2 linked regions of the Homo sapiens genome follow. The protein of the gene in region 1 purifies or fractionates together with the protein of each later gene. This does not show direct contact. Each region holds a gene or a part of one and is shown on either strand. Other genes may lie near its edges.

Region 1 (3,500 bases):
GACTTCGTCTCAAAAAAAAAAAAAAAAAAAAAAAAGAATTTTAAAAATATGCAAGATGTGTAAGGATATAGATTTTTTAAAAAAGAATTTAGGTCAGGTGCAGTGGCTCACATCTGCAATCCCAGCACTTTGGGAGGCCGAGGCCTCCCAACATGGAGAAACCCCATCTCTACTAAAAATACAGAATTAGCTGGGCGTGGTAGCACATGCCTATAATCCCCCTACTTGGGAGGCTGAGGCAGAAGAATTGCTTGAACCCAGGAGGTGGAGGTTGCGGTGAGCCGAGATCGCGCCATTGCACTCCAGCCTGGGCAACAAGAGCGAAACTCCGTCTCAAAAAAAAAAAAAAAAAGAATTTAAAAAATAAAATCCATCCTGGCTAACACGGTGAAACCCCATCTCTACTAAAAAATACAAAAAATTAGCCGGGCGTAGCAGCGGGCGCCTGTAGTCCCAGCTACTCTGGAGGCTGAGGCAGGAGAATGGCGTGAACCCAGGAGGCAGAGCTTGCAGTGAGCTGAGATCGCGCCACTGCACTTCAGCCTGGGCGACAGAGCGAGACTCCATCTCAAAAATAAATAAATAAATAAAAATAAAATAAAACTGGCTTGGTTTGTTTATTATCTTCGTGCAATGGCAACTCTAAATCATATCTGTGATAAAAGGCCCCTCCTGGCAGGGGCTGACAGCTCCCATCACCCATCTTGGGATGCCACCAGCCCAAAGGAAACTAGTCCGGAGTCAGCCTCTGGGCTTCTGGTTGGCATCACCCAAAACTCAGCCATTAGAAACTTTAATTGCAGATACCCGGCTGGGCGCGGTGGCTCACGCCTGTAATCCCAGCACTTTGGGAGGCCGAGGCAGGAGGATCAGGAGGTCAAGAGTTCGAGACCAGCCTGACCAACACAGTGAAACCCCGTCTCTGCTAAAAATATAAAAATTAGCTGGCCGTAGTGGTGCGCGCCTGTAATCCCAGCTACTTGGGAGGCTGAGGCAGGATAATCGCTTGAACCTGGGAGGCAGAGGTTGCAGTGAGCCAAGATCATACCACTGCATTCCAGCCTGGGTGACATGGCGAGACTCCGTCTCAAAAAAAAGAAAAAAAAAAGAAAATTGCAGATACCTTTCTCCCCCTGCCTTCCAGTCTCACCAAAAACCCTAATATAAAACACAATAGCAGTATACTGTGTGGTTAAGAGCAAACTCTGGGTTCAAATCCCAACCTCCCCACTTAATAGCTACATGAAAGTTATTTAACCTCTCTGTGCCTCACTTTCCTCATTTATGAAATGGTGATAATAATGTAAGTACTTCATAATGCTCTTACAAAGATTAAGAGTTAAAATGGTGCAGAACATATAACAATGCCTGGCATAAATACAACATACAGGTTCATTATTATTAGTACAGCCTCTCCCTTAGATTACTTAGGCAGAGGGGACACATCCACAATAACTCCCAGTGAGGAGGGGAACCTGACCTCCTACTGCTATATGCCTGGCAGGGCTTCTAGGTGAGTGCCCAGAAACAGAGAAGCCTCCATTCCCTCATATTCAAAAAAAGCCTGCAGACCAAGATGTCCCAGATGCTTTCAAATGCTATTGATGTTAAAGAAAAGGGAGGTGCCCAAATAGCACACTGGATCCAGGAATTACCTCGCACTCATCTAGAGTGCCTTATCCCCCACCTCCCACACCCCCCTCCCCGTTCCATCCACACAAGTCTAAGCACCTGTTCACCCACATCTCAGGGAGGGCTGACCTCAAGCCACCCAGTGGTCCCAGGGCTCTGGCTGCTTCCTGACACCCCTCTGAGGACACATGATGGGCTCTAGGATACCAGGCCTGCAAGCAGCAGCCCTGTCCCAGCCACACTGGGATGAGGTGGAAGGGCAGGGAAGGGCAAAGCCCCTCAGGTCAAACTGTAGCCCCCTTAGCTGCCATTAACCCCTGCCTTTCTATAGCTTACCATTAAGCTGGCAAAAACTTTTTTAACTCTTAAGAAACTTATATCCTCCCTCAACCCAATAGTATAAATACCACTCTCCCCCTTCCAGGGGTGCCCCCCAGTTAAAAATTACTTTAACAATCTCCAAACTCTTCAAGTTGTATACACTAAATATACACCTTTATATATGCCAATCATACCTCAAAAAAGTGGTTTTTAAAAATTACTATAACTTAGTATCACCTCGTACCGTTTAGTTGTCCCTCGATATCTGAGGCGGATTGGTTCCAGGGTTCCCCCTTGGATATCAACATCTCCAGATGTTCAAGTCTCTTATATAAAATTTGTATATAACCTATGCACAGGCCGGGCACGGTGGCTCACGTCTGTAATCTCAGCACTTTGGGAGGCCGAGCTGGATGGACCACTTGAGGTCAGGAGTTCAAGACCAGCCTGGCCAACATGGTGAAACCCCGTCTCTACTAAAAATACAAAAATTAGCCAGGCATGGTGGCGTGCACCTGCAATCCTGGAGGCTGAGGCAGGAGAATCACTTGAACCTGGGAGGAGGTTGCAGTGAGCCGAGATTGCGCCACTGCACCCCAATCTGGGCAACAGAGACTGTCTCAAAAACAAAACAAGGCTGGGCGCCGTGGCTCAGGCCTGTAATCCCAGCACTTTGGGAGACTGAGGTGGGCAGGTCACCTGAGGACAGGAGTTCAAGACCAGCCTGGCCAACATGGTGAAATCCTGTCTCTACTAAAAAACAAAAATTAGCCAGGTATGGTGGCGGGCACCTGTAATCCCAGCTACTCAGGAGGCTGAGGCAGGAGAATTGCTTGAACCTGGGAGGCAGAGGTTGCAGTGAGCTGAGATTGTGCCACTGCACTCCAGCCTGGGTGACAAGAGTGAAACTCCCCTTCAAACAAATAAAAAAATAACCTATGCACATTTTCTGGATACTTTAACTCATCTCTAGATTATTCACAATACCTAATACAATGTGAATGCTATGTAAATAGTTGTTATATTTATTTGTATTATTTTTTATTATTGTATTTTTTATCTACAACTGGATTCATGGATAGGGAACCCATAGAAATGGAAGGCCAACAGCAACTGTATTATGAAAGCAAGGTCTCCACTTTCAAAATAGAAATCACATTTACCCCTCTTCAGAGACATGGTAATTACCCAGTTATCCCTTGAGAATCACTAAGACAGGACATTTAGGTCTGAAGTTTGGCAGCACTGATACAGCCTGCCCCGGACAGGTTCATGTACTGTATTACCTCATGTCGTCCCCAGCTCCAGTCAAGACTTACCTGCAGGACAGCACAACCTCTAGATTGGGAGGGACATTCAGCTCCTCCCCTTAATTCCTTACTGCCCTCCTTAGCTTTCAAAGGGTATCAAAGCTTCGAACACATCTTCCCAAGTGGCAGAAAAATGCCAATTTTCCCGTAATACCACAGTCATTACTGCCCTAATTCCAAACTCTCATTATGGCTGCACTGCCTGATATTGCTGCAATATAGCAAACTCCAGGTAGT
Region 2 (3,500 bases), on another chromosome or scaffold:
ATATGTATCATATTCAACATTTTTAATTTGTAGTTATTTTAAAGTTAATTTAAAGTTTTGTCTTCACAAAACTTATTTATTTTGTATTGACGTGTCTTATGAAAATAACTCCACTTTGGGAGGCTGAGGTGGGCGGATCATGAGGTCAGGAGATCGAGACAATCCTGGCTAACATGGTGAAACCCCGTCTCTACTAGCCGGGCGTGGCAGCGTGCGCCTGCAGTCCCAGCTGCTGGGGAGGCTGAGGCAAGAGTATGGTGTGAACCCGGGAGGCGGAGCTTGCAGTGAGCCGGGATCATGCCACTGCACTCCAGCCTGGGTGACAGAGCAAGAATCCGTCTCAAAAAAAAAAAGAAAATAACTCAACTTTCAGTAAATGCACATACTAGATAACATTTAAATTTATATTAAATTTACTTAATTTAACATTTAAATTTAAAACAACATTTACATGTCAAGTATTTTTGCCTTTATTTCTGTGTTCTAAATTATGTAACAATTCATATTAAGACTCGTGATAAAAAATCCTTAAAGGATCCCAAAGTAGTTTTCTGTTCTTCATTCTTCCATGGTAGTCTCTATGCTAGTCTTATGCATAAGATTCTCTAAGAAGGTGAGAAAAGCAATTCTATGAAGACATAATGCCTGTGTACGATATTTGACATAATTATCATCTAAAACATAATGCCAACTCAACCACCATTAATAAATACTGTATAGAACAGCATTCAGGAAGTACCTGATCAGAAGAATGTAAAGGAAGCAGAAGATGCAGATATAAGAATGATAAGATGTGAAAATTGATGAAAGACAGGCAGACACTTTTTGAAGACAACCAAGATAGAACAGCTGAGGGATCTATGTCAGGCCATGTGGTAGAATCTATGCCAGACTGTATGGTGGATTTATATCTAATCATCCTACCAGAAGCAGCTGTCCCCTCCCCATTACATAGTATCACTTTTATTTATTCTTCATAGCACCAATTCATAACCAAAAGCAACTGAAGTTGCTTTGTTAATTTTGACTGCTTCACCAGAATATAAGTTTTAGAAAACAGGGATATTGTTTATTTGTTCATTATTTATATCATTTAGAACAATCTTTGACACATAAATAGACAATAAATGATTAATGGAGAAATGTGATAGATAGATAGATAAATAGATAGATAGATAGATAGATAGAATATGCAAACTGAACCTAAGAAATAACCAGAATTAGGTAGGTCTATTTTGACAAAAAATTCCTAGAACACAGAATTTGAGCAGATTAAAGAAAGAATACTATAGAAACAAGAAATAAAATTGGAATATAGAATCATAAAATTCAGTAGTGATATAGGCAGGCTGAACTTAAGTTAGATGGTCACTAAGGAGACCAAAGACATTATTGTGCATATCATCATTTTCATCTTTTTCTGAAAATTTTCTTTTTCTAAGCCTATTTCTTTGTTCACTTTGTTGCTAAGAAAGAATATAAAAAAATTACAATTTTTTTAAAGGTTAAGAATTTAAAGTTATGCTTGATAAAAAATGTTCTTGGCTAGACCAAAATTTTGTTTTCCCCTTTTGTAAGGTGCTTCCTAGATTCTAAAATGTTTTCCTTATGGTTTCTGTATATCCTTTATTTAAACCACTTTCATAAAGGCCACATAATGAAAAGTCATCTCTTAAGTCTTTCAGTCCCCTACTGCAGTATTCCATATAAGTTATGGTTCATGATTTTTTTGTGTGTGATGTCAGAGTTTAATCAAATACAACATGAGCTGGACAGTGAACTTTTACTGGGGGGCAAACGAAAGTCGGTATAATGGATTTGATGTTACAAGCCCAGAAGGTGTTTAGCACTTATGAAGGACAAATATCTCGCGCTCAAATCATCAGACAAATATAGTGGTCACCCTTTTCTATTAATGCATGAAAATGCTTCTGTCTTGTGCCAACGTGAACTAAAAGAAGAGACTAAACTGGTTAAAACTTCCTGATTTTTATAACTTGCCTCAGTATGCCTTCCATTTTTAGGATGAAAAAATTCTAAGTTTTTAAAACAACAGCATCCCTCAGCTTTTCAGGAGTCCCTGTGTTGCTTCACTCCTTGAGAGCATATGATGGTCAGCGTGACAAGAGTCAAAGTCAAATGCCAACCATTGCTTACTTCCAACCCTAGGAACTTCACTCTTCTCCAAATATGGCTTTTCCCTACACCCCTCAGATGAAAATTAGGCCAGTTTTTATCTTCAGACTAGAGGAACAAATAACATCAATATTCTTGCTAATTTCTCAAACTGACATGATTAAAAATTAAGTGGACTTTTCTTGTTCACATATCAGAAATTTTCATGTCTATTTTTATCTCTGAACAGCTAATAGTATATTCTTATATATGGTGAATTTGAGGAAAAAACCTCCTTAATCTTAAAATAAATCTAGTCTCTGAATCATTTTCTGATTTCAGGGTTTCCAGCAGCATTTGTTGCAGCATGGGCTGTGGCACGAGCAACTCTGGCTGATGCGAGGTGAGTGAAAAGGCAGGGGAAACGAGAGAACCTCAGATGTTCTCAAGACTCAGGCTTCCTGCTCAGAATTCACACTCGCTTCTGTTCTTGATGCCATTGCTTTTTAGGGATGCCACAAGGAAAATTACCTTGATGCGATGGTAGCTTCCAACACATTACCAGCAAGCTGTCTATTCCAGAGGTCATAGAGCAGAAACACTCGCAGACTAGATGAAGGTGCCTGACCTCCATAGATTAAGAAACAAATGTAAAATATAATGTGAGAAGCAAGTGGAAAGAGATGGGTAAGAGAATCCACTTAGGATTTAGTGAAAGCAGGTTGAAGAACTACACTACCTGATTCCTAGGATAGGCAGTGTTCATACTCTCTCTCTCTCTCTCTGCCACATCAACTTTTCCTGAGGATGGTGTGGTTATGAGGACCTGCGATAAGGTAGCACGAAGGGGAACTACAGACAGAATCTGGTGCCCTGGGCCAGTGACACATACTTCCTCATAGAGATGGAGAGGCAAGTACACTGGCTACATTTGTAGCTTCTGAATTAGCCTGCAGAGAAGTTCTGGGTTTTATTTGTGGCCCTTGGGAAAAGGACATGTGGGAAGGAGTTCCATCAATCCATGAATCCTCAAAATCAAAATATTTTTGAGGCTGATAATGCCCTCAAAAATATTAAGAACTTCCTTTGTATCAGGGATTGTTCATGGCTCTTGTATATTTAGTATATTATGAATGTTTAGAGCTCAGTTGCCTCATGTGTCTTTAGTACCTGGGTTTAACACACGTGTGGTCTACTAACTCATCCTTATCTATATTTAATGCAAACTGTGGGTTTCATGCATCCCATTTGTTACCATATCTTCTATAGCAGAATTAAATATTTTAAAATAATAAACACATATTAGAAGTGGAATTTATCTCTAACTGTGAGTCATTAAGTTCTTCCAGGTAGCATGGAGCTAATTTAATGTGTCATTTTAAAGT

The links. The genes of interacting proteins can lie anywhere in the genome.
Region 2: the proteins of RBPMS2 (region 1) and PTH2R purify together in Homo sapiens (co-immunoprecipitation; one large-scale study listed by IntAct). This does not show direct contact.

What each region holds. Positions count from the first base shown.
Region 1 is NC_000015.10:64,769,090-64,772,589, forward strand, and holds part of RBPMS2 (RNA-binding protein with multiple splicing 2), read right to left. Parts: intron 1-3,500.
Region 2 is NC_000002.12:208,448,292-208,451,791, forward strand, and holds part of PTH2R (parathyroid hormone 2 receptor isoform 1 precursor), read left to right. Parts: intron 1-2,457; coding exon 2,458-2,518; intron 2,519-3,500. UniProt on the Homo sapiens protein: This is a specific receptor for parathyroid hormone. The activity of this receptor is mediated by G proteins which activate adenylyl cyclase. PTH2R may be responsible for PTH effects in a number of physiological systems.